Linked DNA regions of Homo sapiens: regions 1 and 3 are each reported to be linked to region 2. The links are microRNA targets in miRTarBase. Many come from high-throughput screens and were not tested one by one. Region 2 holds a microRNA gene; each other region holds the end of a gene's coding sequence.
Evidence for each region. The annotated mature microRNA hsa-miR-5003-5p reads UCACAACAACCUUGCAGGGUAGA and lies in region 2 at 1,746-1,768, opposite strand. An mRNA with a match to its seed (bases 2 to 7 or 8) in the 3' UTR can be bound and repressed. Matches are read on the target gene's strand: a 7mer-m8 pairs with bases 2 to 8, a 7mer-A1 pairs with bases 2 to 7 and ends in A, and an 8mer does both.

Region 1: the mRNA of NPTX1 is a reported target of hsa-miR-5003-5p. Seed matches in the 3' UTR shown: 7mer-m8 at 2,067-2,073 and 7mer-m8 at 2,671-2,677.
Region 3: the mRNA of HSPA2 is a reported target of hsa-miR-5003-5p. The part of its 3' UTR that is shown has no 7-base or 8-base seed match.

What each region holds. Positions count from the first base shown.
Region 1 is chr17:80,468,205-80,471,457 of GRCh38, reverse strand. It overlaps NPTX1 (neuronal pentraxin 1), which reads left to right. Exons shown (of 5, transcript NM_002522.4): 5 at 424-3,253. The coding sequence ends at 645. Among named protein-coding and RNA genes, the nearest start is that of NPTX1, 6.8 kb to the left of the region's middle. RefSeq lists an enhancer at 2,809-3,253.
Region 2 is chr5:172,660,702-172,663,954 of GRCh38, reverse strand. It overlaps MIR5003 (microRNA 5003), which reads right to left and starts at 1,790; the gene lies at 1,692-1,790. All of the region lies in intron 1 of NEURL1B (neuralized E3 ubiquitin protein ligase 1B), which reads right to left.
Region 3 is chr14:64,542,551-64,545,763 of GRCh38, reverse strand. It overlaps HSPA2 (heat shock protein family A (Hsp70) member 2), which reads right to left. Exons shown (of 1, transcript NM_021979.4): 1 at 2,527-3,213. The coding sequence ends at 2,995. Among named protein-coding and RNA genes, the nearest start is that of HSPA2, 3.4 kb to the right of the region's middle.

The DNA.
Region 1 (3,253 bases), not on the chromosome of region 2:
CGTGAAGTGGTTTGTCTCCTGTTGGGCACCTGGGAGGAAGACGAAGGGATGGAGAATCGGGGACGTCTGTCCCTGTTGGGCAGCTTTAGCTGGCATGGAGTGATGTCTGGGCAGGGGCCCCAGGCCCAGCTGCTGTGGTTGTCCATGGCTGAGGGACCAGCTGCAGGAGGGGCAGAGTCCAGGTCCCCCCAGGAGAAGCTCCAGGGCAGAGGTGGTCGGTGCCATCCCTTTTCTTGGGCTCCCCCAGAGGAGGGATGGATGTAGGGCTGGAGAGTCAGGGACAGGGAGACGAAACGGCACCTAGGAGTGTCCGTGAGAGTCCGTGATCGGGCAGGCACAGAGGCACTCAGATCCCCGGCCTAGGGATGGGCCCCCAGACCACCTGGCGACCCCTCCACTCTCATCCTCTGTTTTTCTCTGAAGGACACTCTGGGTGGTGGGTTTGATGCCACCCAGGCATTTGTGGGTGAGCTGGCCCACTTCAACATCTGGGACCGCAAGCTGACCCCCGGGGAGGTGTACAACCTGGCCACCTGCAGCACCAAGGCTCTGTCCGGCAATGTCATCGCCTGGGCTGAATCCCACATCGAGATCTACGGAGGGGCCACCAAGTGGACCTTCGAGGCCTGTCGCCAGATCAACTGAGCACGGCAGGCCAGGCTGAGCCCGCCCGCCCTCGCCCCCTGCTTGTGCGGCGATGATCTGTTTTGTGCGTCTCTTCTCTCCCTTTTCCCCAGGAATGAACCGAGGCCGTCGCCCCTGCACACGCACACGCACACAGCCTGGTTTTGTCCTCATGCACACGAAGCAGCCCCTGCTCCCATCTGTCCCTGAGGAAGCCCCACTTCTCTGTAGGAGCCCGGACTCTCTCAGGCATGCCCCATTCACAGCTGAAGTGGGTGCTGCAACGTCTTGAACAAGGCAGAAGTTGGTGAGAGGATCTGTGTGTGCGTGTCTACATGTGTGTGTCTACGTGTGTGCGTGCGTGGCTGGGGGAGGCCTTTTCTTTGAGGACGTACCTCATTTCCTTCTTTCTTCTGGCTTTGGAAAAATCTCATGATGAAAATTCATATTTGCCAACTTTGTTAGCTGCGTGCGTGCTTTGGGGTTGGTGCAACCTCAGTACACGCATTTGTCTTTGTTTGCAAACCTTTCTCAGAGCGACATATCTTTATATTGATGTAATAAATGTCTTTTAGTGGTTTGTCAAAGGCCGGGGGCGGGGGCTCTCTACAGAGAATTTTTATTTTGTAATAGAAGTGAACTGTCTCTGAAGGGTGAAGGCAGGCCGTCCTGGGATGGTACCCTGTGCTCTCCCGTGGAGGAGAGGGGATGGCTGAGGACACTGGCCCTTACCCCAGGGCCAGACAGCATCCATCCCTGCTGTTTGCATCTGAGAGCAGCATGGGGCCTGGGAGGTCGGCCTGTGTGCCCAGCTCAGCTAGCTCTGCCCCAGGACGGCCCTGCCCTCGACCTTCCCACCTCCTCAGATCCTGCAAGGCTGGGGTCTGCCCCTCCCTTCTCACCTCTGGAGCTGTGCTGCACTGCTTCAGCCCAGAGGGCCCTGAGAGAGGAGCGTGCCACCCACAGCCCGGGAAGCCGGGCCCCAGCACCCCTCTCCTTTGGCCTCCGGCAGTGCAGACCAGAGGGGACCTTTTAAGGAAAGAAGCCGTGTTTCGATGAAGACCTGGCCACATGGGGCCACTGGGACTTCAACCCAGCCCATCGGTGGGAAGGTCCTTTTTGGGGGACTTTGACAGCCATATCCCTCCCAGCACACCAGGCGCCAGGTGAGCTGGTTCAGACCCCTCCAGGGGTACTCCAGAGACCTCACGTGTGGAGCCAGGCCTGGCCAGGGCAGGGGCCTGAAACCCACTCCTCCATCTCATGGGGCTCACGGCCTACAGCAGCCCACAAGCTGCCACTGGCCGGCGACACTGACACCTGAGCAGTGTCCAGAACCTTTTTGCCTTTTTTTGTTCCCCGTGAAAAGCAACATGGACATTTCCTTCTAGTCCTTCCAAGGAGGGGAGAGAAGTGTATGTGCATTTGTGTGTGTGTGTGTGTGTTGTGTGTGTGTGTGCGCTAAGTGAGAAAGAGAGCAGGCTCGGGAGGCCCTGCCCAGGGTAGGAGGAGCTTCCTGCTTTGCACCATCTGGTGGTCGCACGCCCTGAGGGCACCCCGACTCTGTCTCCAGGAGTCTCATCAGCAAACCGCTGACAAGTCTTTCTAGAAATTCTACTGCACTGCCTGGCTCAGCTGCAGCTGCAGACATTTCTGCAGGAGGAGCAGGTGTTTCTGTCTTCTGTTCCTTCTAGGGCCACCTGTCCCCTTAAACACAGGTCCACGTTGTGTCAAGAACCTAGTGCATCTGTGTGTGTCTGTCAGTGTCTCTGTGTCAGTGTTCTCGTGGGTGTCTGCACGGTACCCGGCCGCCGTTCTGCAATGCATCACTCCCGCAGAGGGGGGTGCAGATCAGGCGCCGTGCTGCGCGTTGTTGTTCAACAGTGGCTTTTTCTTAGATAATCGTGCTTCCTCAGCGCCCGTCGGGTTGTGGCATCCTTGGATCTGCAGGGATCTTCTCCGTTTGCATGTTCCTCGGGGTGGCGTGTTCCTTGCTCCCTGGGTCCGACATGTGTTCCCGCACCTGCATGGACTGCCCCGGTTCTGTGTTGTGTGCCGAGTGCCGCCCAGTGTTCTGTGACCACCCGTGTAGCTACTGAAAATGGCTGGGTAAGCAAGTCAAGGGTGTTGGAGGAGGTCAAGAGAGAGCTCAGTTTCCCTCTCCCCCTCCCCAAACACACCAAGAAGCATTTTTAACGTGTAGGTTGAGAACAAGCCTAAAGGATTCCCACAGCTGGGAGCCAGCAAGAGAGCTTGGAGTCGCCTCTCTAGACCAGATCTAGCCCCACCCTCACTCCAGCCATCTCGGAGCCCTTGTGTAGGCAACGCCCGGTGCGGGCTGTGTGGGGTGCTCCCCTGCCAGCACCTCCGGCCAGCCCCGCCCCTGCCGATCTACTGGACCGCAGACCACCTTCTGCCCCCGTGGGCCAGGTGGGAGCTGTCCGTTCAGGACCATGAGCCATCCTCTGCCCTGACTAGCGAGGGGCAGAGCACACCCCAGTGCTTACGCCTCCACCCCTGCAGCCTCCTGGCCCGCTCACCTTCCTCACCCCTCCTCTGACCCACCCATGGTGCCAGGGCCGAAGCTGACCTTTAGCTCCCTCCTGCCCCTTGCTAGGGTCTGAGCCAA
Region 2 (3,253 bases):
TACAGCCATTCCCCCAAAATGGCCAAGTCTGCGGGTGCAGAGATCCTTAGCTTCTGGCACCAGGACCAGACTCATACAGATACCCTGTCACTGGTAAATAATAATAATAATAATAATAATAATAAACAAATAAAACCTCTTTTGCCAGGAAGAGGTCCCCAAACCACGCCAGCGACTAAATCCCCTGGGCCATCCTCCCATGAAAGACCAAGGCCCTGCTGGCCTTGGGTGGGTGCTGGCCCCAGCCAGTGAGCCGTGCCCCCCACTTCTGACCAAGAATTGAGGCCAGGGACTCTAAGAAGAAGTGGGGGAGGTGCGGTTTCTGTGAGGTGGGGACTCAGTGGAGACCTTTGCAGTTGCCCTTCTCGTTCATAGAAGGGAGAAGGGACAGCCCTGGCCCAAATCCCATGGCTTTTTTTTTTTTTTTTTTTTTTGAGATGGAGTCTTCCTCTGTCCCCCAGGCTGGAGTGCAGTGGTGTGATCTTGGCTCACTGCAACATCCGCCTCCCGGGTTCGAGCGATTCTCCTGCCTCAGCCTCCTGAGTAGCTGGGACTACAGGCGCCCGCCACCACACCTGGCTAATTTTTGTATTTTTAGTAGAGACAGGGTTTCACCATATTGGCCAGGCTGGTTTCGAACTCCTGACCTTGTGATCCACCTGCCTCAGCCTCCCAAAGTGCTGGGATTGCAGGCGTGAGCCACTGCACCTGGTCAATCCCATGGCTTTTTAAGTTTTTTCTTGAGGCAGAGTCTTGCTCTGTCTCCCAGGCTGAGTACAGTGGCATGATCACAGCTCACTGCAGCCTCAAACTCCCGGGCTCAAGTGATTCTCCCACCTCAGCCTCCCAAGTAGCTAGGACGACAGGTGTGTGCCACCACACCCGGCTATTATTATTATTTGTAGAGTCAGGGTTGCTGGGGCTGGTCTCGAACTCCTGGGCTCAAGCAATCCACCCACCTCAGCTTCCCAAAGTACTGGGATTACAGGCATGAGCCACCATGCCCAGCCTAACCCCCATGGTTAATCACAGGCTGCTCCAGCCCCACCAAGACTAGAGGGCAGTGTCTTTCCAGCAGTTAGTCAAGGAAACAGTGCCCAGACTCGAAATGCATGGCAGAGATTTGGAGGGTGGGTGATGAGTGTCTGTGGGTGGTTAGGGAGGAGGGAACTCTGGCTGTCAGGGTCACCACTGCCCAGCCTTGGCAAGTCTTTCTGGAAGGCCGGTCAACATAAGAACTGCTTCCTGGGTGGCTCTGAGATTTACTTCATGGGCTCTGGATGAAAGCCTGTGCTTTGCTACTGATTTGTCTGAGAGCCTTGAGCAAGTCACTGTACCTCCCAGAACTGCAGTTTTGTCATGTCTAAATGGCACGTGACCTTAGACCCCTGTCTCAGGCTGCTGGCAGGGGCAATGAGAGCATAGAAAAATCCCGGCAGAAGTCCTGGCACATAGTAGATGTTAAATAAACAGCTATTCCCTTCCCTTCCCCATGGGAAATAACAAGTCCAACCACTGGGTAAGCCCCTCACCTCCATCTCTTTCATGCTTTTTATTTCTACATCACAGTTTGAGAGGTGGTTAAAAAGAGCACAGGCTTGGAGTCAGACCTGGGTTTAAATTCTGGTTTTGCTTATTTATTAGCTGTGTGATCTTGCGGTCCGTGTGATCTTGAGGTCCGTACTTAACTTCTCTGTTCCCCCTGCCCCAGCCCCCAACAACCTAGAAAAGTAGGAAAAATCATCTCTACCCTGCAAGGTTGTTGTGAGGATGACACAAAGCAAACTCATCAGACACACAGTGTGTGGCATGTAGTAGGTGCTCATTAAACACTTGATCTCCTCCTTTAACCACCTTATTTAGTTCCTTTGACTAGGAAAGGTTTATTCCTGGGTCAGAGATACCTACCTGTGGCAGCTGGGAAAATACGTTCTGAAACATTTTTCTCCCGTGTAGGGCTCATAACCTTGGCCAGCAGAGGCCTCTTGAAAACCCTGGGGTTGCTTCCCCTTGGTGTCCAAGGACAGAAGCCTATTTTTAAACTATGCCAGCAGGCGTCCTAAATGCGCCTTGTGCCATCCCCTGAATGGTCCCCACTCATCTCTCCAGCCTAGCCCTTCCTTTGATCTAAAAAGAGCCCAAGGAAATGGCAGTTACCGTCAGGAGGATGGCAGGAAGCAACAGCTCCCGATACTCTGGCCCCGAGACGCCGGCTTCCAGCCTGCTGGAGTTCCGCAGATGGCATGCTGGCTGAGGTTTTCAGCAGATTCCTCTCCACCAGGAAAGGGAATTGCCAAATGGGAGAATCGTCTATTCTGCCTCTTCCTTTGAACATGAGGATTACACTGGAGTTTCACTGGGCCTCTGCTATGTAGTGGGTACATGTCTTGGTTTATTGGGTTTAATCTTCAGGAAAACTCTGCAGAGTGGGTTTTACCACCTTGATTTCCCAGATGAGGAAACTGAGGGTCTGAGAGGACCAGGCTCATGCCCTTTCTTCCACCCCACCCCTTCTTCAAGGCAGCTGCCATAACTTTTGGGTTGGCGGGGCGTGGGGAATGGTTCATGGACCTTGTTAGAAGCAATAAAATCTATAGAGGCTTCCCCGCCAGAAACATACCCAGACTCCATGCACAATCTGATATTCAACTTCAGGGTTTCCCCCCAGAAACATACCCAGACTCCATGCACAATCTGATATTCAACTTCAGGGGCTTCCTGGACCTGGACCTTTATAACATGCGTCCTTGGACTGTAGACCTTGAGTGAGAAATCTCTGGTTCAAATGACATTTGCCCCAGTCCAAAATGTAAACCAGCACTGTTGGCAGTAGGAAGCAACATGGTGCTCATGTGTGTTGGGGTGAGGGGGGCAGGCTGTGCTCTAGAGAGAGGAAAAGGCAAGGCTGGTATTTAGCAAGGCTTCCCGCCATATCCAGAGGGGCCAAGATATCAGTCACCTTTGCCAACAAAGTTCCATTTTCCATTGGTGGGTTTAAAAGTGGGCTGGAAAAAAACATAACCAGGCTGGGCACGGTGGCTCACGCCTGTAATCTCGGCACTTTGTAAGGCCGAGGTGGACAGATCACCTGAGGTCAGGAGTTCGAGACCAACATGGTGAAACCCTGCCTTTGCTAAAAATACAAACATTAGTCGGGTGTAGTGGCGGGCATCTGTAATCCCAGCTACTTGGAGGCTGAGGCAGGAGAATCACTTGAACCCAGGAGGCGGAGGTTGCAGTGTGCTGAGATCGC
Region 3 (3,213 bases), not on the chromosome of region 2:
TACAAGTTTTAATGCATTTTCATTATACATATCAAATCAATACTATAAAAAATTTAAAGTGAGTTTGTTTTGAAATTTCACACATCTCAAATACTGTAAACAACTAGTTATGTCTTCGTTTGACAGGTGTCTATATTTGTTCCCTCAAAACAGGGACAACTATGTTAATCAAACATTCAGATAAGAATTTCAGGTAAGTGGGCTGGCGCGTGGCTCACGCCTGTAATCCCAGCACTTGGGGAGGCCAAGGCGGGCGGATCACCTGAGGTCGGGAGTTCCAGACCAGCCTGACAAACATGGAGAAACCCCATCTCTACTAAAAATACAAAATTAGCCAGGTGTGGTGGTGCATGCCTGTAATCCCAGCTACTCGGTAGGCTGAGGCAGGAGAATCGCTTGAACCCAGGAGGCGGAGGTTGAAGTGAGCCGAGATCAAGCCATTGCACTCCAGCCTGGGCAACAAGAGTGAAATTCCGTCTCAAAAAAAAAAAAAAAAAAAGAATTTCAGATAAGTGCCTGTCGGAGAATCCTTAAACTGTAATTTAGCCCCATCCTAACATCAAGTACTTTTTCCACTGTTATTTGACTATGGCTGATCTAACATCTGCTAAGGAGTTCCCAGGAGTTATCAGGTTACAAGTTTCAACTGACCCCTGGAAAGTGAATGGCTACTTTGGTGGCTTTATCTTGGTAATATGCAAATCTTGGTAAATTTGAAAAGAGAGAATTAAATAAGAAACACTCTCAAGAATGCTCAAGAATGTAAAACTCAAGAATTTGAGTTTTACAAATTACTTTTCAAAATAGAAAATGAAGTATCTGCCCAGATTGATGTTAGTATTATAGCAAGCTACCGGAGGTCAGGCCGTAGGATCAAAAACTACCAATGGTCATTTTCTGATACTTTAGAAACTAATCTCTTAAGTGAGGTCTAAAATGAGTCATACCAAACTGCATTTACAGAAGGACTCCATTATATTTTGAAGTTAGAGCAAGGAATGAACACTTTCAACAAATAAAGGACTAATAAAAGGGTAACAGAATGGGTATTATCTTGGTAAAACTCACAGTAAACGTCACTCTAAAGCTACAATTAACCTGATTTTGTAGTACCATAGTAGTTTGTCACATATTTATGCCTGTAGTCCATGAAACACCCTTAAATGCTCATTGCTGAAAAATTTCCACCAATGTGACACCAGCACTGATAAATTGGAGTTATCTTTAGCTTTTCAGAGTATAAAAAGCAGTTTCCTTTAAAAAAAAAAAAAGGTTTTTATGTTGAAGCAATTTCACTGTTGGCTATTTATCTTCCTCCCCCCTACCCAAATGAGGCTTGCTAAAAAGGAAAAAAAAAAAAACACCTTATGTGTACTTAAGAGTCAACTCTTGTATGAAAGGGTCATTACCAAAGGCCAGTATTCTTAGGCTAACTTCTTAGCTAGTTTTAAAATTATTACTCATTCCATTATTCATAAAATTAATCTCTCTGAATGACACAGATGGGTCCACTACTAAATTGAAGATAAAGCTTTCATAACTATTGTCTTATGAGCAGCATGAAGCAAACCTGCATCATGTGGAAAGATATCAAAACGTCTATGTGCAGTAAAAACATTAGGTTAACTATGCATTTTCCTATTGGTTTTACTGAATTTCTCTCAAGTTCTCCTTAAAGAGAGTAAGAAAAGAGTAGTCATGTCATTTCACTAAAAAATAAAAATGAATTCCTTTCTCTGAAGGATGTGAATTTTAAAGATTAAGTCCAGGATAGTGGATCACCAAAGGGTTGCAATATTCTTATCTATAACAATCTCAAATTGGATATGGAGGAAAATGGACAAGTTGTATATTAACAAAATACAAGACTATCTAGTACAGTTTGCCTTTTAAAAAAGAAATCTATCGTAGTGATTTAAGGCAAGTATTGCAAAAACGTTATGATCCCCAAACCAGAAAAAAATAATAATAATTATGTTTCCCTACCCAAGTAATTCTAACTGCGGGAAACATGTTATTAGAATTTGCCATAAGCTCAGAAGTTGAGCTGTTTTACTAGAAAATTAAACAAGTTTGACTAAATTTATACTCACTATTAAGTCACTTGAAAGCTTGCCTGCTGTCTCTTGTTTCAGGCTCCTGTATGTCACAAAATTAATTTGTTTCCATATTTCCTTTGGCAATTATAAGACAACTTCTGCCCAGCTTTTGTTAAAGGCTCATTTTACATTTAACCCCAGAATATAGCTCATATTTTCCTGGAATATTCAGGTGAATTTTCATTTGGACACTTAAGTTGTAGGAGTGTGAGTACACTAGGAAGACCCCAAGTCAGGTTTCTGTATTTAAGGGTGGGTGAAGTTTACCCAGATTCTTCTCCCCTTAAGTTGTTGGAATTCAAGGCAGCACCCTCATCTGGGAATTAAACAAGATTGGTTAGATAAATTTCACATCATACTAACATCTTAAAAGACGAATATGGGTAAAATATAAAGGAAGGAAAATTGAAAACTCCAAGACAGTAACTTTGAGATCAATTTCAGCTTTACTTTACATTTGCATTTATGCATTTGTTTGCAAAAAGTATACCTGTCCTTAACATTACTGCAATGTTCAGTTTAGTTTTAAAGTAGTACATAAAAATAAACAATTTAAGCTCCTATATATTTTACTGTTTCCAAGCTTCTACAGAACAGGTGTGCAAACTTAAGGTTTCTCATCTCAAACAAATCTCCATGCACGAACTAATCAAAAATGCTCAAGTCAGCAAACACGCAAAATGCATTAAAGAGAAACCTCGAATAATGTTTTTAAAAAACAAACTTTGGAACTTTTATAATTAAACTAAGTTGTTGCACCTCTCCTTTCATTTGCATATACCAAAGACTTCCAACAATAGATCTCGTACTTGGCACAAGGACATTTCAAAGAAACAAACAAAAAAAAAGAGAGAGAGAGAAAGGCAAAGAGGTTTACGCTGACTTGAGTGCAAGCTTAGTCCACTTCTTCGATGGTGGGTCCCCCGGAGGCTCCTGAACCGCCGCCGCCGCTGCCGCCGCCAGGACCACCTTGGTAAAGTTTGCTGATGATGGGGTTGCAAACTCTTTCGAGCTCTTTCTGCTTGTGTTCATACTCATCTTTCTCTGCCATCTGGTTTCGGTCGAGCCAGTTGATCACCTCCTGACACTTGTCGAGGATCTTGTTTTTGTCCTG